Linked DNA regions of Homo sapiens. The protein of the gene in region 2 purifies or fractionates together with the protein of the main gene of each other region. This does not show direct contact. Each region holds a gene or a part of one and is shown on either strand. Other genes may lie near its edges.

Evidence for each region.
Region 1: the proteins of GPX7 (region 2) and ZC3HAV1L purify together in Homo sapiens (affinity purification with mass spectrometry; 2 studies listed by BioGRID and IntAct, with this or other methods). This does not show direct contact.
Region 3: the proteins of GPX7 (region 2) and UTP6 purify together in Homo sapiens (affinity purification with mass spectrometry; 2 studies listed by BioGRID and IntAct, with this or other methods). This does not show direct contact.
Region 4: the proteins of GPX7 (region 2) and GAK purify together in Homo sapiens (co-immunoprecipitation; 3 studies listed by BioGRID and IntAct, with this or other methods). This does not show direct contact.

Annotation. Positions count from the first base shown.
Region 1 is NC_000007.14:139,032,238-139,040,414, forward strand, and holds the start of ZC3HAV1L (zinc finger CCCH-type antiviral protein 1-like), read right to left. Parts: upstream 3,806-8,177; 5' UTR 3,781-3,805; coding exon 3,416-3,780; intron 2,442-3,415; coding exon 2,306-2,441; intron 1-2,305.
Region 2 is NC_000001.11:52,605,008-52,610,352, reverse strand, and holds the end of GPX7 (glutathione peroxidase 7 precursor), read right to left. Parts: intron 3,670-5,345; coding exon 3,408-3,669; intron 2,092-3,407; coding exon 1,928-2,091; 3' UTR 1,302-1,927; downstream 1-1,301. UniProt on the Homo sapiens protein: It protects esophageal epithelia from hydrogen peroxide-induced oxidative stress. It suppresses acidic bile acid-induced reactive oxygen species (ROS) and protects against oxidative DNA damage and double-strand breaks.
Region 3 is NC_000017.11:31,891,272-31,899,435, forward strand, and holds part of UTP6 (U3 small nucleolar RNA-associated protein 6 homolog), read right to left. Parts: intron 3,741-8,164; coding exon 3,699-3,740; intron 3,467-3,698; coding exon 3,374-3,466; intron 1,524-3,373; coding exon 1,476-1,523; intron 1,053-1,475; coding exon 989-1,052; intron 1-988. UniProt on the Homo sapiens protein: Part of the small subunit (SSU) processome, first precursor of the small eukaryotic ribosomal subunit.
Region 4 is NC_000004.12:865,865-874,028, forward strand, and holds part of GAK (cyclin-G-associated kinase), read right to left. Parts: exon of another isoform or gene 7,437-8,164; intron 7,362-7,436; exon of another isoform or gene 7,204-7,361; intron 5,041-7,203; coding exon 4,847-5,040; intron 2,822-4,846; coding exon 2,675-2,821; intron 1,569-2,674; coding exon 1,092-1,568; intron 671-1,091; coding exon 500-670; intron 1-499. UniProt on the Homo sapiens protein: Associates with cyclin G and CDK5. Seems to act as an auxilin homolog that is involved in the uncoating of clathrin-coated vesicles by Hsc70 in non-neuronal cells. Expression oscillates slightly during the cell cycle, peaking at G1.

The DNA.
Region 1 (8,177 bases), on a different chromosome or scaffold from region 2:
AAAATTAAGGAGAATAGGGATATGTAGGTCGAAGGGAACAAAGTTTCAATTAAACAGGATGAATTTCTGGAAATCCACTGTACGGCAAGGTGACTGTAGTTAATAATAACATAATGGCCAGGCACAGTGGCTCACACCTATAATCCCAGCACTCTGGGAGGCTGAGGTGGGCGGATCACGAGGTCAGGAGATCGAGACCATCCTGGCTAACAAGGTGAAACCCCATCTCTACTAAACAAAATACAAAAAATTAGCTGGGCATCATGGTGGGCGCCTGTCGGGAGGCTGAGGCAGAAGAATGGCATGAACCCGGGAGCAGAGCTTGCAGTGAGCCGAGACCTCACCACTGCACTCCAGCCTGGGTGATAGAGTGAGACTCCATCTCAAAAAAAAAGAAATAAATAAAATAAAATAAAAATAAAAATAAAATAAAATAAATAAAAAATAAAATAAAATTTAAAAAAATAACATACTGTATACCTGAAAATTGCTGTCCTTACCACACCCAAAAAATAATAGCCATGTAAAGTAATGGTATGCTAATTAGCTTAATCATTGCAATCAATTCACAATGTAAATATATTAAAACACCACATTGTACACTGTAAATATAAAATTTTTATTTGTCAACTACACTTCAATAAAGACAAAAATTTGATAGAATTCAACTATGAAACTATATAAGCCTGGCCAGGCGCAGTGGCTCACGCCTGTAATCCCAGCACTTTAGGAGGCTGAGGCAGAGGGATCACTTGAGGTCAGGCATATAAGACCAGCCCGGCCAACATGGTGAAACGCTATCTCTACCAAAAAGTACAAAAATTAGCTGGGCATGGTGGCACGTGCCTGTAGTCCCAACTATTCAGGAGACTGAGGTGGGAGAATCACTTGAACTCAGGAGGCAGAGGCTACAGTGAGCCGAGGTACTTCCAGCCTGTGTGAGAGAGTAAGACCCTGTCTCAAAAAAAAAAAAACTATATAAGTCTGATGTTTTCTTGTGCAAGCCTTCTAACTAATGCTTTGAGGTTTGTTTAATGCTTTTATTTTAAAAATTTTTATGACACTATTTTGGCTTTCCGTTTCTTCTTGAATCCATTTTGACAAGCTGTATTTTTCTAGAAATTTGTCCATCAATGCACCAGCATGAAACTTTACCTGTCTATTGTCTTTTTTATTGAGAGAGTGGTAAAAGCAATCATCAGGCATTTCATACAAGAGATGTGAGGCACCATTCTTGCCTCATGCACTGTGTTTTTCCACAGTCCCTGCTGCCCACATGATCACGTTTTGTGCCACATGTCACCTACTTCCAGTCCCAGGTGATGGGGACAAGTGGAGGCACAGGGGAGGCTCCTGTTGTAAGTGCAGCCAACCCATCAGCTGCTCACAAAACACTGAAGTAGTCTAATATGACAAGGTGAGGCTGGGCCCAAGATACATCCTAAAAAAGGGCATACCAAAAAAACATTCGATAGATTTGACAAAATAAAAACACTAAACTTCTATAAATCAAAAAGTACTATAAAATTAAAAGGCAAATAGCAGCGGCACCACGCCTTCTCTCTGAGACAGGAAGGACTGGACCCAGCCTCATAGGTGCAGCCACCCTCCTCTCCCTTCCTGCCAATAACCTGCTTCAGCTACTGCTTGCATCTACTTTGGGCAACATGGTTGGTTGGAATGCCTCTGGCTCACAACCGTGACATACCAGACTTGGCTTCAGTGCTCGAAGAAATGAAACAGGTTATGCATGTCAGGAAGAAACCTGCTTGTTCCTGAGATCAACTCCAGGACTGCCTTCTGGGTACAGATTCTGCTGCCTTGAGAGCAGCCTCTGCCACCTGCACCAAAGGCTCCAGCTCCTACCTCTAGTCTTGTGGCTATCTTCCTTTCTAGACGCTGAAATGCATTAGAGTTAAAATCAGGCCACAATTATGAACTATCCTCTGTTTTCTCAACATCTCCCCTTCTTCCCATCCCTCTTCTGGCCAAGTGGAGGTGTCTATGATAGCATCACTGTGCTAGATTAGAAAATCTTGCTTTTAATTGGTGGTCTTAATTGATGTTCCAATTTTCTCTTGGGATTTGTACTATTTTGTTTTTAAAACTTCTTTGTGTATGGCTAAACTGAAACAAACGTACTATTTCGCCATGATAGCAATTATAAAGGGTACCTTTAAAGCATTTGAAACTGAATCATGTTGCTTCGAAGGCAATTAAAATTAATATGTAAAGCCAAAAGAAAAATAAATGGGGAAAGTACTTGTAGCAAATGTGACATGAGGGTGACTCCTTGGTGACTCACCTCTGGTAAAAGACAGGGGTCATTCTGCAAAAGCAGGATCCGAAGCTGGTTTTCATTGAGACCAAAAAGTCCATGGCTTTTCAGGACCTGCATGTTGACAGGTGTGTGGATATCATGGGAAAGGGTACAGGTAGACCTAAAAGAACAAAGCCCTCGGTCAGATGCCCAGGTGAAGAAGGACCAGTCTGTCCAATTCCTTGCCTTGAGCAGCTTTCAATGTATTTAATACATGTGAAGTTGAGTAATTTTCATGAAACCGGGGATAGTATGGCCTAATAAGCACTGATGGAAAATAAGAAAATTGGGTTGAAGGAACTCCTCTCCCAGGGTCATTTGAATTTTCAGTAGGGATGCTTTGAAGCCAAGGGTCGCCCACCTCGCCTGAGGATGCACATCTGTTCCGTAGGCGACTGCACCTGGCCTTCTCCCCGGCAACAGCTGCCACAGTCCACCAACGTTAAAAAGAAAGCGCCCCTATCCCCAGCACCGCTTTGGCGGGGTGTGTGGCTAGAGACAACCAAGGAAAATTCGGGGCTGTGAAGCACAGCCTGGGGTCAGGAGGCAGCCCCGAACCCCAGCTCTGGCAGTCAGGAACCACAGGGCCTCACCCAAGCCATCCAGCCCTGTTTCCTGGGGTGAGACTGGCTCAGCGCTGTTAAACCTAGAGGGCGCAGACCCGCTTCTGCACAAGTGTGTGGATATGGGGGAGCAGCGATTTCCGGCTAAAGGGTCCAGGGATCTCATGGGATCCTCAGACGCCCCACGCCCCCCACCTCCCGCCAAATATCACCAGAATAAGTGAGCTCCGAAGTCCCAGTCCGGATTTAACCCGGCCGCGTCGCGCAGGATCCGGGGGGGCGGGCGGGGGCAGCAACTTTTCTGGCGTGGGCGGTTGAGACGTCTCCATGGAGAGGACCTTCGCGCCTTTCCGCCCAGCTGCTGGAAGCGCGGGGGAGGACGCCCAGGAAAGGCCTGCGGGAGGGGGTCGTCCAGCCCCGCGTCCCCGGCCCGGGGCAGGACGAAGCCCCCCTTCCCGTCGCTCCCGCTTCCAGCAGGACGGCCAGGCCCGCGGCCAGCGCCCACAGTCCCCGCCCGCCGCCGCCTTCTCACCAGCAGTCCCGGTTGGGGCACTTGCCCAGCATGTGCCGGCGGCAGAAGTGCAGCTGGTCGCAGGCCTGGCACTCGCCGCGCTGGTAGCGGGCGCAGAGGCGCACAGAGGACACGGCCACCACCCTCCAGGCGGAGGTGCCGCCACCGCCCACCGCGCCGGCCGCCGCCTCGGCCTCCGCGTCCCCGAGGCCCTCCTGCGTCTCCACCTCCTGCAGCAGGAAACGCTCGGGCCCGGCGCGCTGCAGCACGTCCCGGAGCCTGGCCTCCGACAGCTCCACGTGGCCGCGCAGGTCCTTCAGGAACATGCGGCCGCCGTGGGCGCACAGCACCTTGGTGAGGAAGGAGCACACTGTGGGCTCCGCCATGGTCGCTGGCGCGGGCCCTGTGCGCGCGGCGCAGCGAGCCGGGGCGGGCAGGCTCCTCCCAGTCACGTCCACGATTTCCAGCGAACAGCCCGGGGATGGGCCTGGGCCTGGCGAGGGGTGGGCCTGCGGGAGGCCGGGCGAGGGGCGGCCCCGGCGCGTGGAAGCAGGGTACGGCGCCTGCGGATCCCCTGGACGTGGACTCAGGCGGGGACAGCGTTGATGGAGCGTCTGCTCCGCCCAGGCACCGTTCAGGGCGAAGCCTGGCCTTGAGGGGCTTGTATAGTGGGAGTCACAAAGGACTCGCCAACAAGACAACTGGTAGTGCTAGGGAGGCCTGCGGAGAAGGAGAAATAGGTAAAAGGTGGTAGGAGGTGAGTGGCCGGGCTGCTTCGCGGGAGGTGGCCACTAGCCACATGTGGCTGCTGAGCACTTCTGGGATTTTTTGTTGTTGTTGTATTTTTATTTTTGGAGACAAGGCCTCACGTTATCGCCCAGGCTGGAGTGCAGTGGCGCTATCGTAGTTCGCTGCAGCCTGGAACTCCTGGGCTCAAGCGATCCTCCCACCTCAGCCTCCTGAGTAGCTGAGACCGAAGGTTCGCATCACTAATTTTTTTGGTTTTTGTTTTGCTTTGTAGAAACGGGGTCTCCTCATGTTGCCCAGGCTGGTCTCGAACTCCTCAAGCGATCCACCTGCCTCAGCCTCCCAGAGCACTGGAATTACAGGCGTGAGCCACCCCGCGGGGCCTGCTGAGCTTTATTGGAAAGTGGCTAGTCCGAATTGAGATGTGATATAAGTGTGAAATACACACACTAGATTTTGAGGACTGAGAATGAGAAAAAGAATGTAAAATATCTCACTAACTTTATATGAATCACATGTTAAACATAATATTTTGGATATATTTGGATAAATAAAATGTTATGACAACTTCATGTGTTGCTTCTACTTTCCTAATGTAGCTATGAGGAAATTTTACATTGCAAATGTGGATTACCTTATTTTTGTTGAGCAGCACCAGTCTAGACCTGCCTTAAGCATCCATGCTTTTTGTCCAACACCTTGCTTGTTTCATGAACGTTTGTTGAGCCAACTACTAACGCAGTGACAGTACAAAGATGAATCAGACCATCAGAGAACTCAGCCAGCCTAGCTGCTATTTTGCAAGGTGCTCGTGAGGATTAAATGCATTAATGTCATGTAATGTAAAGAAGCTAGAGAGGAAGACAACTGGCCAGATGCCAGAAGACCTTCTCTGCCATGCTGTGAAATTTGGACTTATATCCCGAGAACTTTGGGAAGTCACTAAAGGATTTTCATCTGGGAAGTGTGGATGTCTCCTGAGTGCCACTCAAGGTGTGTCATTCAGCTCTGAGCTTTAATGTCTTCTCTTCAGCAAAACCTTTCCTGACCTCTCAAATCTAAAGTAGCTCCCCAGTCTGCATGGAACTTACCACTGATATTTTTCTTCTTTATTGTGTATTTATATATTTAGCTATAGAATTCAGGCTCATGAAAGCAGGAACCTTGTTTTGTTCATTGCTGTATCCCTACCACCTAAAATAGTACCTGGCCATATTGTAGGATAGGTGTTTTAGAAAGACCCCTGGCAGCAATGAGAAGAATGGATTTCTAGAAAAGCAAGACGAGGTGGGGAATAACAGAAAATAAACAGGATTTGAGGGACTATAACCCCAGTGTTATTTATGTTGAGAGTTTGCAGTGGACAACCCAAGGTAAGACGCTCAACAGGCAGGTGTATTCTGTATACAGGTCTAGACCTTGAGGGACATGAGAAGGGAAGGGATGTAGATTTGCGTGACATCAGAGCATTAGGTAACTGAGAGTTGATAAGATCACCTGGCAAAAATGAAGAGTGTGAAAAGGTGGGGGACGGGGGGAAAGAAGCTTGGCGAATACCCACATTAAATAAGCAAGTGGGGGAAGAGAAAAATAGGCAGTAGCCTACGTCCCCTTGGCACTCAGCATTTGTTCCTGAACTCTCTGCCTAAGCTTTTTCCAACAGAAGGAGGAAGCAGCCAGCAGGAAAGGCAGGCTGGAATTACCAAGGAGCCAACACCTCCAGGAAGAGCCTTCATCCAGGGATGTTGGGGAATTGGTGGTTTGAGGATGCACTCTCAACCCTAAAATTGGCATGAGGATTATTTTAAACTAAAGACATGTAAGATTCAATAGAGGCAAAAAGAAGCCTTCTTGAAGCTTCCTTTATTTCAGTAAAAGCAGAATCTTCTGGGAGTGAGGTTGCCATTCATCCCCTCTCCAGGGGTTTATGGACATGAAATAGAAAACCACGTGCACCTGCATAAACAACTTCCCTATGAACACAAACTTCCTTATCTCCTGTTTGTTCCCTAGAAACCCCTTTGTTCTTCCCATAGGAGCCTTTTTGCCCCCCTCTCTCCCCTATTAAGTTAGGTAAATAAATCATCATCACTTCTTTTGTGCAGTGCCATATGCATATATGTTTTTTCTCTTGTCAGTTAAATTTGCAGCCCCTCAGAACTGAACATAAGAGAGTGCAGGAAAAGTTTTTCCTCCCCAACAATGGATCAAACAGCCCAACTCATTCCTCGTGTGGAACCACTTGGAGGTGTACATTCCATGGTCTCCCAATGTTTCCTCAATGGAACTGAACCCCAGTTGCCCACAGCCACACCTGCTCATTAGCACTCCCCATACAGTCTTCCTTCCTTTCCTTGCCCTACCTCCCCATTCCCCTGCCAGTGTTTCTTAGGATCACCTCCCAAGTAAACTGTGTGCATTCAATCCTTGTCAGATTGCTCCTGAGAGAACATAGCCTAACATATAAACTGATAAGGAGAGGTTAGAGAAAAATGAGAGTCATTCATGGACACGCAGAGGAGAGAGTTTCAAGGAGAAAGTGATCAGCATGGTGAGATACTACAGGGAGGAGCTTTCCTACAAGGGAAAGCTTGTAGACAGTGATAACCTAGGCAGGTTTATTTCAGAGGAATAATGAGAAAAGGTAGATTTCTGTAGGTTAAAAAAAGAAGAATAGAAAAACCGAGGACTTTACTTCTAAAAGTAAGTAAGGTAATGATAATAAGAGGAAGACACAAGACTGAGAAAGGTATTTTATTATAGGAGAGACAAGCATAGTTACATGCTGAGTAGAAAGAGCCAGTAAGACCGGGCGCGGTGGCTCACGCCTGTAATCCCAGCACTTTGGGAGGCCGAGGCGGGCAGACCACGAGGTCAGGAGTTCGAGACCATCCTGGCTAACATGGTGAAACCCCATCTCTACTAAAAGTACAAAAAATTAGCCAGGCGTGGTGGCGGGCGCCTGTAGTCCCAGCTACCCGGGAGGCAGAGACAGGAGAATGGAGTGAACCCAGGAGGCGGAGCTTGCAGTGAGCCAAGATCGTGCCACTGTACTCCAGCCTGGAGAACAGAGTGAAACTCCGTCTCAAAAACAAAACAAAGAGAAAAGAAAGAGCTAGTAAGAATGGAAAGTTGAAAATAAAGGAGGCCAGGTGCGGTGACTCATGCCTGCAGTCCCAGCATTTTGGGAGGCTGAGGCAGGAGAATCACTTGAGTCCAGGAGTTTGAGATCAGCCTGGGCAACATGGTAGAACCCTGTCTCTACTAAAAATGCAAAAATTAGCTAGGCATGGTGGCATGTGCCTGTAGTCTCAGCTACTCAGGAGGCTGAGGTGGGAGGATTGCTTGAGTCTAAGAGGTCAGAGGCTGCAGTGAGCCAAGATCGTGCTACTGCACTCCAGCCTGGGCGACAGAAAAAGGTAGGAAGGAAGGGAAAGGAAAGAAAAGGAAGGAGAGAGAGAAGAAAAAAAGAAAGAATATAAAGGAAAGGGGAATTGTAATCAGCGGGGGATGTCCATAGGCAGTGAGATAGAATGGGAGACGTCAGAGGAACTAACCTCCGACAGGAGGGGAGATGCTTCTTCCATTCACACAACAGGAAAGGAGACAAGGATTAGAGCATCTAAAGACAAGTTTGTAGGCTTTGTTTTGTTTTGTTTTTTTAAGTTTAAGGCAAAACCAAGAATGGATGGTGGAGAGTCACTTCAGGAGACCATAAAGGCTTGACAAAGCTGACTTGTGGAGAGGGGAGAAGGCTGACAGGTAGGACCAGTGGGCATGGGCAGGGCCTTACCAAGGCCACAAATTCGTAGTGGCATTGATCCAAACAGTGCTGCAATTCTCCTAAAAGCTCTCAAGGTGTAAGAACAGAATTTGATTGATTCACTTTTAGGTTTTGCCAGTGGGTGAGACTTAAGGTCAAAGGTTCTAGATGATTGAGGTATGAATTGAAAGAGTGATCAGGGGGCTGGGTGCAGTGGCTCATGCCTGTAATCCCGCCACTTTGGGAGGCTGAGGCAGGTGGATCACCTGAGGT
Region 2 (5,345 bases):
AGCACTTTGGGAGGCCGAGGCGGGCGGATCACTGGGTCAGGAGATTGAGACCATCCTGGCTAACATGATGAAACCCCGCCTCTACTAAAAATACAAAAAAAAAAAAATTAGCTGAGCGTGGTGGTGGGCGCCTGTAGTCCCAGCTACTCGGGAGGCTGAGGCAGAATGGCGTGAACTTGGGAGGCAGAGCTTGCAGTGAGCCGAGACTGTGCCACTGCACTCCAGCCTGGGTGACAGAGCTAGACTCCATCACAAAAACAAAACAAACAAACAAAAAACTTTCCAACTTCAATGAGGCTGGACATCTTTTTGTATCCTTATTACGCATCTATAGTCTTCCGTGAACTATCTATTCATCTCCTTTGCCTATTTGTTATTGAGGTGTACTTTTGGCTAGTGGATTACTCAGTGAATTTTTTTTTTTTTTGAGACAGAGTCTCTCTCTGCTGCCCAGGCTAGAATGCAGTGGCGTTATCTCCGCTCACAGCAACCTCTGCCTCCCGGATTCAAGCGATTCTCCTGCCTCAGCCTCCAGAGTAGCTGGGATTACAGGCACCTGCCATCATGCCCGACTAATTTTTATATTTTTGTAGAGACGGGGTTTCACCATGTTGGCCAGGCTGGTCTCAAACTCCTGACCTCAGGTGATCCACCCGCCTCAGCCTCCCAAAGTGCTGGGATTACAGGCATGAGCCACTGTGCCCGGTCATGCCAGGCTAATTTTTGTATTTTTATTTTTTTATTTTTATTATTATTATTATTATTGAGACGGAGTCTTGCTCTGTCGCCCAGGCTAGAGTGCACAGGCTGGAGTGCAGTGGCACGATCTCTGCTCACTGCAAGCTCCGCCTCCCGGGTTCACACCATTCTCCTGCCTCAGCCTCCAGAGTAGCTGGGACTACAAGCGCCCGCCACCACGCCCGGCTAATTTTTTGTATTTTTAGTAGAGACGGGGTTTCACCGTATTAGCGAGGTTGGTCTCGATCTCCTGACCTCGTGATCCGCCCGCCTTGGCCTCCCAAAGTGCTGGGATTACAAGCGTGAGCCACCGCGCCCAGCCTAATTTTTGTATTTTTAGTAGAGATGGGTTTTCACCATGTTGGCCAGGCTGGTCTCAAACTCTTGACCTCAGGTGATCCACCTACGTTGGCCTCCCAAAGTGCTGGGATGACAGGCGTGAGCTACCGTGCCCGGTCACTGAGTTCTTATTGGGCAATAATGATTGGCTTAACCAAAGGCCTGGCAGCCTTTGTACCAAACTGCTAACACTGTTTACCTCTAGGGAGGGAGACTATGGAAAATGAGGAGGATACTTTCATTTTTATTTTATATCGTGAGGTATTGTTTGGATTGTTACAATGAACTTGCATTTCTTTTGTAATGAAGAAAATAATACAGAGGAAATAACAACAACTAAACCTTTGGCCTGGATTATCATCGGCTGGAAATTCATGTTGGATGCAAGTTTTTATTGATAACAAGTTATTTTTTGGTTTATATGCAAAAAATGTTCATTGAATGCCTCCTATTTGGCTGGCACTGCCTAGGCACTTTCACAGGTATTTCATCCTAATCCTCACAACAGCCCTATGAGGTAATCATTGGTCCCAGTTTACAGAAGCCTTGGGTGGGAGATTATTGCTTGATATACTTCTATTTGCCACACATTTTTGTTGGCAAGACGTTCGTATCGGCTGGTGATTCACTGGTCAAGAGCTCTCATTGGCCAGGAGTTCCTATTTGTTGCTGTAAGATTCAAATAATCAAAATACTAGAATTTTTCCCCCACAAGAATGATGGGACCAATGGCATAAGAGTAAAGGAAGGAGAGTCAGTGGGTCTCTCCCTTTGAAGCACCATTTGAGTTTGCATTGGTCAGCCCCACACAGGTGGGCGGGATGAGGTGGTGGAGGAGGAGACGCGGTGGTTATAAGTCTTCTCGCTTCAGTAGGATGAGCTTCCTCACGAGCGCTGTGATCTGGGGTCTGACCTCCTCCACTGACACAGTTGGGTCCCAAGCCCCTACCACCTTTCCATCTGGGGCTACTAGGTACTTCCAGAAGTTCCAGGTGGGCTCCTTCCCAGAAGTCTCTAGAGAAAAAGGAAGGAGAGCAAAGCGTGCTACCCTGCGTACCCTCTCCTGGGACTTCACTCTCAGTGTCCATCTTTCCCTGGTGGCAGCTAATCCTGATGCCCAGTCCACACCCCAGACCACTCCAACCAGAATCTCTGAGGGTGAGGCTCAGGCATCAGCATTTTTCAAAAGCCCCCTGGGAGATTCCAAAGTGGGGCCGAGGTTGAGAACGACTGCTGTAGGATTCTGTGACGTGCTTGATAAAGTGGTATCAAATCCTCCTTTATTAATGACTTCGAACTACTGAATAGTCTACACCCTATTCTCTAGTTCAGTTTTAATGGTTTCCAAATGTTAGTCCATGGACTGGTTTCATCAGAATCACTGGGGGTCAGGGGAGTGCTTAAAATAAAGATTCTTGGGCCCTGCTTCAGTAGGTCTCAGCCTTGTGCATTTTTAAGAGCTCCCCAGGTGCTTCTAAAAGCAAGGCCGGGTTTGATCTATAACTGTGAGAACTGGGAAGGAACTAATAAAAGAACACAGAGAAAAAAATCAACATTAGGACTGAGCCACAGAGCAAAACACAAACCTGCCGCAGTAAGGGACCTTTTGTTTGCTGCACTCTTGCTTCTCATTTACTCCTCCAGGTGAATGGGTTGCAGGGTGGGGTGGTGGCAAGGGATACAAAGGCCACCAGAAGCACGGAATCAGAAAAGGCAAAAATGGGGCCTCCAGAGGAGAAGGCCTGAGGGAAGAAATGGTCAGAATGGCAAGCTTAGCCCATGAGCCCATTCTGTGGCTCTGAGGCTTCTGCAGCTGGAGAAGGGATCTTGTTCTCAAATACTAAGATCTGGTATTTTAGCTTAGAAGGTCTCCCTCCATGGCCTACAGACTCCGCCACTGACTCAGGGTGAAGATGCCTGTCTACTATCTTGGTCAGCTTTCTCCAAGCAGGTGGCCTCCCCTGTCTATGCCTTGGTTTCTCCATCATATGTCCATAAACTCATCTAGTTCACACTGACTTAAATGTCTCCTTCTAGGAGCCCCTGAATGTGAAAACAGGATCCCAGAAAAGTCCAAAAGAGTGACTTCTGAGGGACAAGTGAGAGGCAGCAGGTATGGAGATATTCTTAGGCAGGAATACCCCTCAGCTTCTACCTGCCTCCACTCTCCTCAAAGATTAGTGCTGGAACAAAGCATCAGTCCACCTGAGATGATCAGGAAGGGGAAGGGGCCCCAGGTCACCCAACCAGCCAGTGGCTTCTGCTGCCCAGGGAGCCATGGCCTCAGCCAGCTAAGGGAGGTGTGAGGGGATGAAGAGACCAGGACTTACGGGCCAGGTACTTGAAGGCAGGATGGGCACCAGTACCGGTGACTGCAATCTTGCTAAACATGGGGAATGAGACACTGTAGGTGCGGCGGGCAAAGCTCTCAATCTCCTTGTTGCTGTCAGGCTCCTGTTGGCCAAACTGGTTGCAGGGGAAGGCGAGCACGTTAAAGTGGTGGGGGCCCAGGTCTCGCTGCAGCTGCTGCAGGGCTCGGTAGTGCTGGTCTGTGAAGCCGCACTCGCTGGCCACATTCACCACCAGGGACACCTGTATGACAGAAACAAAACAAAACAAAGCCCAGACAAGCCAGTGAAGAGGCATGAACCTGTACATGCCCTGACACATCCACATATGTGACTCCCTCAACAGTTAATACTGCCTCACACATACAAGAACACTGTGTACACATATGTAAATGTGTGTCCAGTGCTCTCACACATACACAAACACATGCACACAGACAGGCACATATGAAATCAAACATTCAGGAGCTTACAGATGTGTGCACACATACATGAACATCTGTGAACATAAGTATACAACATACATAAATAGGTATGCACATGCACCACGATACAAACATGTTAGCAAACACCACACATGCCCACACACACAGCACATCCACAGACTGGGGCACACATACTGGTGAGCACATACTGAGAACTGATAAGAGGGGGTACAAAGGGAGACCTGGGCTCAATTTTTGGCTCAGTCAGCTAGCACTCGCCACTCTGCACTGTGTCAGTCTCCCTTCTAGAATGTGAACCTACTGAGGGCAGGAGCTATGTCCACTTCATCTCTGGGCCTGGCATATGAAAAAGTCTCAGTAAGTTTCAGATGAATGAGTAAGTGTGCACACAAACACAAACGCCTGCATGGGAACATAGACACAGGTTTTCTTGAGAAAAGAACCCTCATAACTCCAGGGCAATCACCTTTTTGTCCCCCTCCTCTCCAGAGAACTAACACCACTTTTGTTGTTGTTGCTGCTGGAGCAATGGCATAATCATAACAGGACATCCCCCCAACCGTTTGCAGTCTCAAACTTCTGAGCTGAAGTGATCCTCCCACCTCAGCCTCTCAAATAGCTAGGACTACAGGCACGTGCCATCACACCTGGCTAATTTTTTAATTTTTACTTTTGGTAGAGACAGTTCTCGCCATGTTGTCCAGGCTGGACTCAAAAACTCTTAGCCTCAGGCAATCCTACCAGCTAAGCCTCTCAAAGTGCTAGGATTACAGTCATGAACCACCATGCCCAGCCTACCACTTTCTTTTATCATTAGACTAATCCTTAAATTTATTAAAGCCTTTAGGCAATAAATACAAAGCTGGCTAATGGAACTTGATTATAAGACTTTGATTAGAATTTTGGCTCAAATGCTATGTTTTTAGCTTCTAGGTATATATTATTAATGGATTTAAAACCCTAGCCGGTGCCTAGGCAGCCTAGCCCTATCCTCCATAATTGACATTTGGGTCAGATAATTCTTTGTTGTCGGGGGGATGTCCTGTTTATTTATTATCAGATGTTTGGCAGCATCCCTGGCCTCTACCCACTAGATGCCCAGTCTTGACAATCAACAATGTCTCCAGACATTGCCAATTGTGCCCTAAAGGGAATAATCACTCCTAGTTGAGAACTACTGGGCTAGATGATTGAACCACTGAGCTGTACCTCCTGTACCCTACCTCCACCAGGTGAGAAAGGACCCATGCCTGGGGCCACTGGCTATTAGAACAACCTCCTCAATTTGAGGTCAGCATACACCATACTGTGCCTGGAATGGTGAGAAACTGGGACTGTTAACTCCCTTCCTCAGTTAGGGTTCTTCCTTTTTTTCCCCCTGCTGGATCCCTGGGCAATGAGAACATTAAAGCTTTTTTTTTTTTTTTTTTTTTTTTAAAGACAGAGTCTTGCTCTGTTACCAAGGCTGGAGTGC
Region 3 (8,164 bases), on a different chromosome or scaffold from region 2:
CCCATCCATGGGGCTTCTAAACCAGACTGGATCCCCTACCTACTGATATGATCTCATCTCCTCATACCTGAACAGTCACCTTAGGAACCAGAGGCTACCTCCATTCTGCTAAGAGCATTCTGCAGAAGGAACATACCTAAGGCTATCCTGCTATATTTCTGAGTAAACTGGTGCCAAATGTAGTCTATTTGAGTCTTGTGTGGTATAAGATATCTGATTAAGCCTAATACCCTGAGAATAGGTGCTGAGGCCCCTCCACTATCAACTAGACCATTTATACATTATTCACAAGAGAAATATTTCTCTTACAAAACATGAGTCTACTCTGTACCAGCACTCTTCTAAAATTTATATTGATATTTTCCCCTTTAAGCTTCTAAAATTCCTCAGATTTGACTGCCTCCAAATAAAATGTCCCACAAAGGATTCAAAAGTTTATTTTGCCATCATCTAAAAAGAAATACAGTCTGGCCGGGAGTGGTGGCTCACGCCTGTAATCCCAGCACTTTGGAAGGCCAAGGCGGGTGGATCACGAGGTCAGGGGTTCGAGAGACCAGCCTGACCAACGTGGTAAAACCCAGTCTCTACTAAAAATACAAAAATTAGCTGGGCGTGGTGGCGGGCACCTGTAATCCCACCTACTCAGGAGGCTAAGGCAGGAGAATTGCTTCAACCTGGGAGGCGGAGGTTGCAGTGAGCCAAGATCACACCACTGCCCTCCAGCCTGGGCGACAGAGCGAGACTCCGTCTCAAAAAAAAAAGAAATACAGTCCTTCTTGCCTGCAGATACAACACCTAGGACAGTAACTAGTATATAGTAGGCAGGGGTGAACTATGAGGCAGCTATTCAGTAAGAAAAACTGCTGAGGCCAACTGCCTAAGCTCAAGTCCTCAAAATAATTTCTCTTAGATTCATCAATCGAAATAAAATCCAAAATGGCTTGAGTCTAAATAAAACATAGAAAAATTGACAAAGATTTCACCATACCTGGTTTGTTGGAATGAATCGCCAACATGGCAGAGAATACCTTGCTAAGTCGAGTTTTAGTAGCCTGTAAAAAAGGAAAATATTTCTACTTCCTGCACAGATAAATCATTGATCTTACTCTCTAAGTAATATGTACCCTAACTTTACCAACTGTAAAATCCAATGGAGCATGACATGCTATTGCTAGGGATATATAAACGAACACAGACCCTCAAAATTTTCTACCTCAATTAAACCACTAAACACTTTAAATATCTTTTTAAAAAGTCAACTGTATTGAACAAACACACGTAAAAATTATATTCTTTTCAATTGAATTGGAAACCATAGTCATTCAGATATCCAATGTTATATTGATGTTCCGCCTTCTTGGGTTCTTTTTTCATGTTAACCCTACACTTCAGGAAAAAACATCTGGCATGAAGCTTAAAGGGCAGATTAACAAAAAGACGGTCAGAGGAAGCAAGACATGCATGGCTTTACTCACCCACTTCTTACAAAAAGCCACATAGGAGAGCCAAAGTTGAACATCGTCCTGCAAGAAAAGCAATGTAGTAAGCTGCCCAAATTTGACCTTTACATATAATACACCTTTGCATTAATTAATTTTGCTAAAAACAAGCAAATTTCAGGTTGGATGCGGTGGCTCACACCTGTAATCCCACCACTTTGTGAAGCCGAAGCGGGCGGATCACTTGAGGTCAGGAGATTGAAACCAGCCTGGCCAACATGGTGAAACCCCACCTAACCTAAAATTACAAAGATTATTGGGAGGCCAAGGCGGATTGATCACTTGAGGTCAGGAGTTCAAAACCAGCCTGTCAAATATGGTGAAACCCCGTCTCTACTAAAAATACAAAAAAATTAGCCGGACTTGGTGGCAGACCCCTGTAATCCCAGCTACTCAGGAAGTTGAGACAGGAGAATCGCTTGAAGCCGGGAGGCCGAGATCGGGCCACTGCACTCCAGCCTGGGCAACATAGGGAAGCTCCAACTCAAAAAAACAAACAAAAAAAATTAGCCAGGTGTGGTGGTATGTGCCTGTAATCCCAGCTACTAGGGAGGCTGAGGCAGAAGAATCACTTGAACCTAGGAGGCGAAGGTTGCAGTGAGCTGCCGAGATTGTGTGCCACTGCACTCTAACCTGGGTGACAGAGCAAGACTCCACCTCAAAAAAAAAAAAAAAAAAAAGCCAGGCACAATGGCTCAGGCCTGTAATCCCAGCACTTTTGGAGGCTGAGGCAGGTGGATCACCTGAGGTCAGGAGTTTGAGACCAGCCTGGCCAAGATGGTGAAACCCTGTCTACTAAAAATACAAAAATTAGCCAGGCGCGGTGGTGCGTGCCTGAAGTCCCAGGTACTGGGGAGGCTGAGGCAGGAAAATTGCTTCAATCTGGGAGGCAGAGGTTGCAGTGAGCCAAGATCACACCACTGCACTCTAGCCTGGGCAACAGAGCAAAACTCCATCCCCCACCAAAAAAAAAAAAAAAAAAAAAGAAGCAGATTTCAGAAAATCCAGTCACCTCTCATCCTATCTGGCTCTTCCTCACAAAGGCCTCCGATCTCTTAACTATGATAATTCAACCTTTCCCCCAACTCCCACTCACAATGCTCCAAAAAAACTTTGTTATCTATCCAGTTGGTTTAATGCAGTTCTTAAAGAATCTCAATCTGGGGTAGCAATATAAAATTTGTCATTACCAAGAATCCAAAATACTTCTCATATAATATACCCAATCCCAAACACTCCCGTAATCCCAGCACTTTGGGAGGCTGAGGTGGGCAGATCACTTGAGCCCAGGAGTTCGAGACCAGCCTAAAAAACATGACGAAACCCTATGTCTACCAAAAATACAAAAATTAGCCAGGCACGGTGGCATGCGCCTGTGATCCCAGCTACTGGGGAGGCTGAGGTGGGAGAATCATTTGAGCCTGGGAGGCAGAGGTTACAGTGAACCGAGATCACCCTACTGTACTCTAGTCTGGGCAACACAGTGAGACCTTATCTCAAAAAAAAAAAAAAAAGAAAAAAAAAAAAATCAAGTTTCTGAGGTATTGCCCCTACATAACCATTTATTTTCTAGCTCTAAGTCTTCAGTGTACTTACAAATATATACAAATATCTCCCAAATTTCCAATCCTTAGTAATGTATCAAATACACTGTTTTCAGCACTGTCCTCATAGAATAACTATAAGGTAATAAGATCAATTTTCTTACTGGTTTGTTAAGTGGCTCAAAAAATGTTTTGAGTAATGATACCATCATTAGAGTAAGTATAAAGATACCCAAGATAAAAATAGAAAACTGCATTTGAATCCCTAATACAATATGTATAATACTTATCTTCACATCTCATAAAGTTAAGGATGCCTTGATCACTCACTTTCCATTTTGCTGAGGCACGCTGGAAAACACCTTGTACCCGGTGTACAATAGAATTCTCAATCTCATCCTTCTTAAATGAATATCCAATGCGCTAAAGGGGGACATAAAAAAACAGAGCCTCAACTTAATCATATTTGTCCAAAACAGCATTCCTACTTGACCACTTAATGGTACTGATGAAGCAAACAAATAATTACAAATATCCATTATAGGCATATCACCACAGTTTTATCAACACTGTCTCCCAAACACAAGTCCTAACTATACAGCCATACTGCTTAGTTCTGTATTTTTCTCCAACTTCTAGAAAATCTTCTACTTACTGTTCTTCTTCTCTGGATCAGCTCCAAAAGATTAATTTCATACTATGAAAGAAAAACATACAAAAAAATGAGAAGCTAGAAAATCTAAAACCTTTTAAATACTGGAAATTTAGTTAAAGTCATAAAACAAAAATCGAGAATATAAAATAAAAAATAATGTGCTATCACATAATTTACAATAAATGTCTAGAACTCACTTAAAATTCACTTAGCTATAAAACTTAAACAGAATTAACAAGCTTATAATTACATGCTTCACTTAAAAATTATTCCATGAAATATTTCAAGCATATAAAACACCCCATGCAGCTACAATGCAGCTACACCAAACCTACATTGCACTACATTTGCTTCAAATCTTTTTTAGAAATAAAACAGTTCGTATAAAAATGAAGCTACCTATGTACCTATCTCTGATTCTACTCTTCTCCCTCTCCAGAGGCAGCAATTACCTTGACTTTGTTATCATTCCCAAACATGACTTTGGACTTTATTATAATGATGTCTTGAATGCCTTTAAATTTTACATAAATGGTATCATGCTACATCCATCAATCCATAGGTGTTTTGTTTTGTTTTTTTGAGACGGGGTCTCCCTCTGTCGCCCAGGCTAGAGTGCAGTGGCATAATCTCGGCTCACTGCAACCTCTGCCTCCTGGCTTTAAGAGATTCTCCTGCCTCAGCCTCCCGAGTAGCTTGGATTACAGGCGCCTGCCACCATGCCCGGCTAATTTTTGTATTTTTAGTAGAGATGGGGTTTCACCATGTTGGCTAGGCTGGTCTTGAACTCCCGACCTCGAGTGATCCACCCACCTTGGCCTCCCAAAGTGCTGGGATTATAGGCATGAGCCACCGTGCCCGGCCCATCAATCCATATTTCTACTCAACATTATCCCTTTAGCTATATCCCTATTCACCGAGGCTGGTGGTGTGTGCCTGTAATCCCAGCTACTTGGGAGGCTGATCAGGAGGTAGAGGTTACAGTCAGCCGAGATCATGTCACTGCACTCCAGCCTGGGTGACGGAGCGAGACTCCATCTCAAAAAAGAAAAAAAAAAAAAAGTTTGCTCTTATAATGAATATAAAGCAGTCCTACACCTGGTTTTTTTTTATTGTTTGTTTTTTTGAGATGGAGTCTCGCTCTGTCGCCCAGGCTGAAGTGCAGTGGCGCAACCTAGGCTCACTGCAACCTCCGCCTCCCGGATTCAAGCAGTTTTCCTGCCTCAGCCTCCCCAGTAGCTGGGATTACAGGTACGTGCTACCGTGCCTGGCTAATTTTTGTATTTTTAGTAGAGATGGGGTTCCACCATGTTGACCAGGCTGATCTCCAACTCCCAACCTCAAGTAATCCACCCGCCTCAGCCTCCCAAAGTGCTAGGATTACAGGCATGAGCTACCGCGCTCGGCCCCTACACCTTGTTTTAATCTTTATTTAACTAATTACTGATAAGGCTGATGTCTTTTCATAAGTTTAACTACAAGTGATGTTTCCCCTTTGTGACTTTCACGTTCACATGATTTGCCCATTTTTCTTTTTAGTTTTCATTTTCTTCTCGATTTACAGTTCTTTATATATGTGTATATGTAGTTCTAATTATGTGTTGTAAATATTTTCTCACATTTTGTGGCTTGTATTTTCACATTATTTGTAGTGTCTTTTTTGCACAGAAAAAAATTTTTTTTTTTTTTGAGACAGGGTCTCTATCACCCAGACTGAAGTGCAATGGCGCCATCATGGCTCACTACAGCTTCCACCTCCCAGGTTCAACTGATCCTCCCACCTCAACCTCCAGAGTAGCTGGGACTACAGGTGTGCACCACCATGCCCAGCTAATTTTTGTATTTTTTGTAGAGATGGGGTTTGCCATGTTGCCTAGGCTGGTCTTGAACTCCTGGGCTCAAGCGATCTGCCTGTCTCACACGTGAGCCGCCACGCCCCTCCAGAAATTTGTATTTTGAACACAATCAAATAAATCAGTCTTTTCTCTCATGGTTTGTGCTTTCACAGTCTAATTTAGCTTTAAGAAATCTTTTGGCTGGGCACACTGGCTCAAGTCTGTAATTCCCAAAACTCTGGTACGGCAAGGCAGGAGGATCACTTGAGCCCAGGAGTTCAAGACCAGCCTGGGCAACATAAGGAGACCCTATCTCTACAAAAAATAAGAAAATTAGCCAGCCATCTGGCACAAGCCTGTAGTCCTACCTACTTGGGAGGCTGAGGCAGGAGGATCATCTGAGCCTAGAAGTTCGAGGCTGCAATGAGTGCTCGCACCATTGCACTCCAGCCTGGGCAAGAGTGAGTGTATTATTTGGAAAAAAAAAAATCTATTTTTGACATAATATGGTCTTGGCTCATTTTGAGTGAGCAATCTACTCATAGGACCTCTTCCAAAAACAATAGCTTAGCCAAGGTTCATATATTGTTTGTTCGGCTGTCTTTTGTCTTTTTAAATCTAAGCTCAAAACTTCTAGTCTTTTTTTTTTTTTTTTTTTTTGAGATGGAGTTTCGCTCTTGTCTCCCAGGCTGGGAGTGCAATGGCACAATCTTGGCTCACTGCAACCTCCACCTCCTGGGTTCAAGCAATTCTCCTGCCTCAGCCCCTGAGTAGCTAGGATTACAGGCACCCAACACCACACCCGGCTAATTTTTGTATTTTTAGTAGAGATGGGGGTTTCACCATGTTGGCCAGGCTGGTCTCGAACTCCTGACCACAGGTGATCTGCCTGCCTCAGCCTCCCAAAGTGCTGGTATTACAGCATGAGCCACCATGCCCAACCAAAACTTCTAGTCTTATAAACATGTGATCTTGTTATTGGTTCTTTCTGAATCCTGATTCCGTCATCCAACATATTAGCTATTCTCCCCCACTGGAAAATTGGTCTGACATAATTTTTCTTTATTCAAACCTTCCATGCATTTACAAGATGAAAAAATCTTGCAGTACACCTCTTTCCAAGTGGACAGACAATAGATAAACAAGCAGTAACTTTTCAATTCTCTACACTCATCACATTCACTCTCCTCTATCTTGCTCACCAAGAGGCAAATCTCTTGCTGAAGTCCTGATACACACTATGTCTCTGACAATCTCTGATCTACAAACCCAGTAGAAAAAAAAAAGAAAGAAAACGACAAGAGAGAAAGAGGAGGGGAAAAGTAAGTTCAGTTTGGCCAGGACTACAGTCTTAGTGGAGTAATGCTACTCCCAATGCTACTCCTGTTCAGAAATATCTATCTAATGAACGTTTCTGGAATTCTTTTAATTTTTTTAAAAAACTGATGTTGGCCGGGCGTGGTGGCTCATGCCTGTAATTCCAGCACTTTGGGAGGCCGAGGCGGGTGGATCACCAGGTCAGGAGTTCAAGACCAGCCTGGTCAAGATGGTGAAACGCTGTCTCTACAAAAATTAGCCTGGCGTGGTTGTGGGCACCTGTAATCCCAGCTACTCAGGAGGCTGAGGCAGATAACTGCTTGAACCCAGGAAGCGGAGGTTGCAGTGAGCCGAGATCGCACCACTGCACTCCAGCCTGGGCAATAAGAGTGAAACTCCATCTCAAAAAAAAAAAAAATTTGATGTTAAGCTCATCATTCTAGAACTGATTTTAAATTTGTGAAGGAATGGGAGGCTGAGGCAGGAGAATCACTTGAACCCAGGAGGCGGAGGTTGCGGTGAGCGTGAGCAGAGACTGTGCAACTGCACTCCAGCCTGGGTGACACAGAGAGACTCTATTTCAATTAATCAACCAATCAATCAATTTGTGAAGGGATTAAAAAGTAAGGCTAGGACCGAGCATGATGCCTCATGCCTGTAATCATAGCACTCGCTTTGGGAGGCCGATGCTGGTGGATTGCTTGAGGCCAGGAGTTCGAGACCAGCCTAGCCAACATGGCAAAACCCAGTCTCTACTAAAAGTAGCTGGGTGCGGTGCCATACGCCTGTAATCCCAGTTACTGAGGAGGATGAGACTTGAGAATCACTAGAACCCGGAAGGCAGTGGTTGCAGTGAGCCAAGATCGCGCCACTGCACTCCAGCCTGGGTGACAGAGCAAGACTCTTGTCTCAAAAACAAAAATAAAAAAAGTAAGGCTGGGCCCGGTGGCTCACAAACACTTGTAATCCCAGCATTTTGGGCGTGGGCAACATGCCGAAACCCTGTCTCTACAAAAAACACAAAAGCTAGCCAGCCATACTGGCACACACCTGTAGTCCCAGCTACTCCAGAGGCTGAGGTGGGAGGATGGCTTCAGCTCAGGAGGTGGAAGCTACACTGAGCCATGATGGCACCACTGCACTTCAGCCTGGGTGAAAGGCGAGCCCCTGCCTCAAAAAAAAGTAATGAAATTATTAATTATTGGCCGGGCACTGTGGTTCACACCTGTAAGCCCAGCACTTTGAGAGGCCAAGGTGGGTGGATCCCTTGAGATCAGCCTGGGCAATGTGGCAAAACCCAGTCTCTACCAAAAA
Region 4 (8,164 bases), on a different chromosome or scaffold from region 2:
TGGCCCCACCGGCGTCTGTCTAAACAAGCCATGCTGTGCCCCGGCGCCTGACCTCCTCCCCATGGATACGGTGCCCCACGGCCCCTGCTACACCCAGACCAGGTCAGCTTCCCGGACCCTGGGTCCCCCAGCTGCCTCCCTCTGACCTCTGGTCCCTACACAAGCTCTGGGTGCAGGTGGCCTTCTCTGCTAACAGCTGCAAGGCCTGGGCCTGAGGAGGCCTGGAGAAACACCTGTTGCCAGTCACAGACGACTGAGGCACTGCAGGGCCCCACAACCTGTTCCAGGTTTGGGGATGGTTTGGGGAGACAGAGCAGGGAGCAGTCTGTCCTGACCTCTGGGACGTCCTGCAGGATGCTTGGGCCGCAAGGAGCGCACCCGGAGGCCACACAGTCCAGCCCCACCACTGCCTGAGACCCACAGCTCTGTTTCCCACCAGAGGCTGCGGTCCTGAGGGAGGCGGCCATGGAGAGCTGGCTGCCAGGCGAGAGGCACTTACCCAGGTGCAGGAAGTCGGCGCTGCAGGATGGGGGCGGAGCACTGTGGGCAGACGGGAAGGATGGTGGGACGGTCACAGAGTCCGAATTGAGAAATTCGCCGAAGAGATCAGGATTGGAGCAGGGCTGGGAGTTGTTGCCTGAAGACGGCAGAAGCGGGCCAAAGGGGTCAGCTGTGGGGACAGGCGGGCATGGGGAGGACTCAGCCCGGCTGCCTGAAGACAAAGGAGCCCAGCTCTGGAGTCAGGCCTGCCCAAGAGGCCACTCCAGCTGGGCAGCCCAGACCCCACGGCTGCCCTCGCAGGGGCACTGAGGCAGTCAGCCCAGGGGCTCCCCGTGCCCCACGCCTCAGGATGACTTTCCCAGGGACACAGCAACACTGCTGAGATGGAGAAGCCAGTAGCTCCCGGCCCGTGAGCTCAGGTGGGCAGCACAGAACCCTGACATGACCCCGAGGCTGCTCCTGGGGGAGGTGGGGGAAGGGCACGTTCCCTTCCTGCAAGCACCTTCGAAACACGCCCATGCAGTGAGAATGACTCAGCCTCATCACTCATCTACTGTGAAGCCACTCGCCTTCAGAACAGAAACACGTACCAGCGGCAGGGGGCCCTCCTCTTGGGGTGCTCTGCACGCTCAGGGGAGGGGCCGGGCTTGCCAGGAGCAGCGGGTCCTCGCTGAGCAGATCCTCCGGGGGCCCCTGGGAGGCGGCCTCAGGGGGCCCAAGGAGGCAGCTGAGCAGGTCGGTGTTGCTGGAGGGGGCCTTGCAGGCCTGCGGGGGTACAGCTGGCCCTGCGCCCACCTCGGAGTGCAGGCCCAGGAGGTCGACCCCGTCTTCCTGTGGCACAGGCTCTGGCAGCACAGCCGGTGTCTCCACCTCAAAAACCAAGTCCTGCTGCACCAGCCCTGCTGCCAGGCCGGGGGGCTCTGGGTCGGCCCTGGGTTCCTGGCCCTCGCTGGAGATCGGGGATCCCCCTTCATCTGACACCTCACTCTCGTCTCTGTCCTCCATCAGGGCAGACTCGCTCTCCTTGGAAGAGGCATTTTCTGCACCAGTCTCTGCCTCCTTCTCTTCTGCGAAAAGGAAACAAAACCACAGGCTAGTGAGACCACACGGCCAGCACCAGGGTCCCCACGGCGCGTCCCTTCAGGGCCTCCTCGGCCCAGGGCCTTGGTGAACACACGTGGCCAGCACCAGGGTCCCCACGGCGCGTCCCTTCAGGGCCTCCTCGGCCCAGGGCCTTGGTGAACACACGTGGCCAGCACCAGGGTCCCCATGGCATGGCCCCTCGGCACCTCCTCGGCCCAGGGCCTTGGCAAGTGCTGCAGGAACACCAGGGTCCCCACGGCGCGTCCCCTCAGCCCAGGGCCTTGGCGAACCCACATGGCCAGCACCAATGTCCCCATGGCACGGCCCCTCAGCGCCTCCTTGGCCCAGGGCCCTGGCGAGTGCTGCAGAAGCTTCTGGGCGGGCGGTGGGGTGTTGTTCCTGAGGCGTCTCCAGCACACCCACCTCCAGCCTCTGCCTCAAGGGTCTGCCTGTGGCTCTCTCCGCCTGGGCCTCTGCGGTGCCTCAGGCTGAGTCAAGTGGGGGCCACATGGCAGCACTAGGGGGTAGGAACACCAATCAAGGGTGCTCTGGGAACAGGCGGCAGAAGGGACGAGCCCGATGGGAAGGCCAGGGGTGCTGGGACAGGAAGTGGCAGGTGCATCCCTTGGGGTGTGTCTGGGGTGAGGTCCAGTGATGGCGCCCAGGTGTTTTCCTGAAAAGCCTCAGAGGGGCTGGGAGCCCACTGGGGGTGTGGGCAAAGAGAGGTGTGGGATCCCCAGGTGGTGACAGTCTGTCCCTCCGCCCAGGCCCTTCCCCTGTACCCAGGGGCCCCGCCAGCATGGCCCATGCTGCCAGCCTCCCCAGGCCCACAGACTGGGATGAAGAGCGAGGGTTGTTATTTCAGACTTTGTGGGCATGTTCTTTTTTTTTCACCTTTAAAAAGATATGAAATCATTCTTAGCTCGTGAGCCATTAAAGAACAGGCTGACATGCCGGGTGCACAGCCCCACTGAGGTGCAACTCAGCTCTGCCGGAGGCCCGTCTCCCAAGACGCTTGCCCTGCCCCAGGGGCACCTCCAGACCAGGGGCCTGCCCTCTGCAAGTGGCCAGGTCCAGGGACGCTGCCTACCCTGCCAGTCCAGCGTGTGCAGGAAGCGACTGGCGTCCGCGCTGCTGCTTGGCGGTGAGTCAGAGTCTGTGGGTTCGGCTTCCGGGGACCCTGCCCCAGCATCATACTGAGCCGTGGAGCCAGGCTGCCGGGGAAGCTCCGGCTTCCCTGCAGGAGAGGGAGGGCGTCAGGGCACTGGCACTGGCCAGCAGCCTCGGGGCAACACTGACCCCAGAGCTGGGAAGTGCAGCCAGGCGGGCGCCAGCACCGTGGCAGGCCAGGCCATCGGTAAAGCAGACCAATGACATGACGGGGAGGGGCTCTCTGAACAGATTCCTGCTATCCACTCGGATGCCACTCTGGGCCATGCGTGCACACTTGGGCACAGCACACGCACACATGAACACGCACAAGGAACCCACCACTGAGGCATCAAACGCCACACATATGCAGGGTACACATGAATGCACACACACAGCTGCACGGTACACACGAATGCATAGAGCACACACACAGGCGCACAGTACACACAAATGCACACACACAGATGCAGGGTACACACGAATGCACACACAGCACACACAGATGCACAGTATACACGAATGCACAGACAGCACACACATAGATGCAGGGTACACATGAATACACACAGCACACACAGATGCACAGTACACATGAATGCACACACAGATGCATGGTACACACGGATGCACAGACAGCACACACACAGATGCAGGGTACACATGAATGCACACACAGCACACACACAGATGCACAGTACACATGAATGCACACACAGCACACAGATGCACAGTACACACGAATGCACACACAGCACATACACACATGCAGGGTACACACGAATGCAAAGCACACACAGATGCACGGTACACATGAATGCACACACAGCACAAATGCACAGTACACAGGAATGCACACACAGCACACACAGATGCATGGTACACAGGAATGCACACACACAGATGCACAGTACACACGAATGCACACACAGCACATACACACATGCAGGGTACACATGAATGCACACACACAGATGCACAGTACACACGAATGCACACACAGCACATACACACATGCAGGGTACACATGAATGCACACACACAGATGCACAGTACACACGAATGCACACACAGCACATACACACATGCAGGGTACACATGAATGCACACACAGCACACACAGATGCACAGTACACATGAATGCACACAGTACACACAGATGCACAGTACACACGAATGCACACACAGCAGAGATGCATGGTACACACAAATGCACACACACAGGCACAGTACACATGAATGCACACAGCACACATAGATGCAGGGTACACATGAATGCACGCACACAGATGCACGGTACACACACATGCACACACTCGGATGCACAGTACACATGCATGCACACACACAAATGGACGGTACACACGAACGCACACACAGCACATACCGATGCATGGTACACACGAACGCACACACAGCACACACAGATGCACTGTACACACGAATGCACACAGCACACAGATACACAGTACACATGAATGCACACACCACTCGTGCACACACACACACGGCACACACCACCCACGGACACATACACAGCACGCACAGGTCACACATACAGCCTCTTTCAGGGACGCTGAAGATGCTCAGAAAGAAAAAGCAAACACTGCAAACCAAGAGCCGAGAACAAGCGTGGCATGAGCAGTGGACGGCCCTGGGCCCACCTGCCAGCACTTCCTGGGCTGCCGTTTCGAAACTGCTCGGAAGTGAAGAGCGACAGGAGCGAGGGTTCTGTTCCACATGCTGCCAGCAGGCCTGAGGCTCACAGTGAGAGTGGACGTGTGTCCAGCACACATGACAAAAATCTGACCCAGACACACGCCTGGGACAAAACCCCGCTTCGCTCCAGGAGCCTGGGTTTTCCTCCCTCTGCCTCCGTCCCTGCCCATGGGCCTCAGAAATTGCAGCCTGCGAGTCCTTCTCTGGTGTAGCTGGTGGTGGTGTCCAACATCCACGACGGAGTTTCCAAAACCTCCTGCAGCCCAAGCTGCTCAGGGCCTGGGTGCAGCAGCAGGCGTGGGGCCCAGCCCTGCCAGAGCTCAGCCAAAGGTGTCTCTCTCCACAGAGACACTCACCAGAACAGGGTTCACCTAATTCACCTGCGGGATCTTACCAAACTTAGACAGAATGTCTTGCTGCTCCTCCCGGCTGGAAAACAGGATTTTGGGGTTCAGCCCCCTCATGCTCGAGTTCTCCCATGGTGGGGCTTCCCGGCTCGGCCTGTCCCTGGGCTCCACCTCCACTTCCAGGTTCACTTGAAATAAATCCGGGTATTTTTCTTGAATGTCACACGCGTCCAGGTCATACCTGCGGTTACAAGTAGACACCACTTAGGAAGGCCACCCAAGTAGTCTGTAAGTCCTTGGACATTCACTAAAGAAACGTGCATGGAAACAGGTGGCAGCTGCAGGCAGCGGGGCGAGAACAACCAGGGCAGCCGGCCACCCCCGCCTGCGGAAGCTGGAGCCCTGTGAGCTGACCCAGCAGCTGTCCCAGGAACCCACAGGGCACCAGCACCCCCGGTCACGGCCCCAGAAGAGCATCATTTCACTCGCTCCTCGGACGTCACAGTGGGGATGCCCGCGACTGTGTTCAAGGCAGAGGGGCACCGGGCGGGGCCGCCATGTTTCCTGCAACTCCAGGGGAGGCCACGTGCTCAGAGCAGACGGGACAACATCCCACAGCTGGAGACTCCGGCACCCAGGCAGGCAGCTCTGAGGTGGGACCCCAGGGTTCCAAGGCAGGCGCTGGCCCTCACTACCCAGCACACACAGACTGCAGCCACCCGGCAGCTCAGAGCACGCACTCTGGGATACTAAATGTGTTTTCCATAAAAATGACGACGTCCGCCCTGACAAAAATCCACAACTGTCAACAGATGCCCATAAAACCAAGACCTCTAGAATCCGGCTGCCAGGGAATTGGGAACATGATTCCGGGGGAAACAAAGCTGTGTTCACTGTGGGGCTGGGGAGGCAGCCCAGGCTGAGCTGTGGGGAGCAGGGCAGAGGTCAGCAGGGCCTGCCTTGGGGTGTCGGCCGTGCGGGTGGGGAGCAGGGCAGGGGTCAGCAGGGCCCACCTTGGGGTGTCGGCCATGTGGGTGGGGAGCAGGGGCAGGGGTCAGCAGGGCCCGCCTTGGGGTGTTGGCCGCACGGGGAGGCAGGTGTGACCTGACACTGACCATTTCCCAGCCCCACAGCTCTCTAAGGAATTCCAGGCTATTTCACACATTTCCTATGATCATCTCTGATCCCACTGTCATAAACTGCACTGATAAGCCTGGGCTCTCCAGCGGGCAGCAGGCTCCCCATGCCTGTCTTATTTTACGCCACCTAAAATCTCTACATGTTGAATGTTATACACCTAAGAAAATAAAGAAGAAACACAAAAGAGTGGCGGCCAGTTCCTGGGAAACCCAGGCTGCCAGTGTCTGCAGGGCCAGGAACACCCAGAGCAGAGTGGGATCCGCCGAGGGAGGGCAGGGAGACGGGCCCGGCGGCCTGTGTGGGTCAGAGCCACGGCTGGTTTTAACTGTCACTTCTCTGAGCTCCACACATGCCTGTGATGTGTGAAAGGCCTCTAGTTCACCCCTTCCTGCTCACCCTCTAAAACATCCTCTCCCTGCACGAGGGGAGAGCACCCTGTGCCCGCCCTGAGGGGTGGCCAACCTCACGCAGAGCAGCGCCCCCTCAATGCCCACTCAAGGCTCTGGGCGGAGGTGGCCACGGCCGAAGCCGGGACTGATGTGCACTCCAGCCGGGGCCAACACGAGCTTCCCCCTGCGCCCGAGCCTCTTTGCGTGCCGCTGTCTGTCGTCAGGGGTGGCAGGGACTGCACAGCGGTGGCACAGCTGGCGTGGAGATGTGGAGGAGGCAACGTCTGCAGAGGAGCCTGCAGGCACCAGCAGAGAATCCGACGGCCACCGCAGCGGAGGCTCAGACCGGCCACGACCGAGGGCGGAGAGGCACAGTGGGAGGGGCACGGAGGGAGGGAGTGTGCAGGGAGCCAGGTCGGCCAGACGGGCTTGGGTCCTGGGACAGACCGAACTTGGGCAGCCCCAGAGGGAGTGCCGCTCATGCCCAGCCTCCCTCCCCCAGCTGCCCCTTGAGATGGCCCTGGGCACTGGGCCTGCAGGCTCGGCTCACCCAGCCTGGCGCTGAGGGCACAATGAGGTCTGTGAGCAGGGCTGGCCACTCCCGAGAGCCCTGGACTGCAGAGGACACTGCCCGCAGGCTCCTGCCAGACTAGCTCCAACAGGGCAGAGCGGACTCCTGACAGGCTCAGCTGTTACATCTGTGCCATGGCTGCAACCCTGTGCTCCTCTCGCCCAGGCACGGCGCAGGCTCACCACGCAGGGAACACGCCTCTCGCCCAGGCACGGCGCAGGCTCACCACGCAGGGAACACGCCTCTCGCCCAGGCACGGCGCAGGCTCACCACGCAGGGAACACGCCTCTCGCCCACAGCGCAGCCTTGATCTCGCAGGTTCAAGCAATCCTCCTGCCTCCCAAAGTGTTGGAATTACAGCTGTAAGCCACTGTGCGCAACCAACCTTTCTTCCTTTTAATGTATGCATTTGAAGTTACACATTTCCTCTAAACCCTGCTTCAGATGCACCCCACACATCTGGTAAGTGGTATTTTGATTATCAATGTGTTTAAAATATTTTCTCATTTCAACAGTGATTTCCTTTTTGGCACACAGGTCACTTAACGAGCATACGGTCTCTGGGTGTTTTCCTGTCACTGATTCCCACTTTAATCCACTGTTGAGATGCCTTGAGACTTGCTGTATGACCCAACGTGGAGTCCACTTTAATAAACGCCCACTTGAACAGATGCCATTTCTCCAAGTATTCGCTGAAGTTTGCAAAACTCAGGTCAAGTTGGTTAAACCTTGTAAAAAAAAAAAAACTATATCCTGTTCTTGTCTACCTGTTCCACTGCCTGGGGAGAGAGGCGGCCATCAGCGTGGGCCTGTCAACTTCACCCCTCCTTCTGCCCTTTGTGCTGCCTGTACTGAAGCCATGTCACTGCCCTCGCCCCTGCAACGTCACCCGTCACCTCCTGCCTTGGTCTATCCCACCTGATATGGACAGTGACACCAGCCTTCTTCCTGTTATGGTCTGCATGGTAAGCAATTTCCAATTATTCCACTTCAGCCTTGCTAGGTCTTCGTGTGCAAGGGTTTTGAAGTATGGCTCCTGTAAGCAGTATAGACTTGAGTTTTGTGTGAGCTTGGTTTTTAATCCAGCCCGATTAACTGGAGTGTGTCTTCTATCCACCTTCAATGGGATGACTGACAGGCACAGCAGGGCGTCGGTCTACCAGCTGGCTGTTTTCTATCTATATCCCACCTGGGTTTGTTTGTTTATCTCTACGTTGTTCTGGCGAATTCATCACATATTTTTTGTTCCATTTTTCTTCTTGATT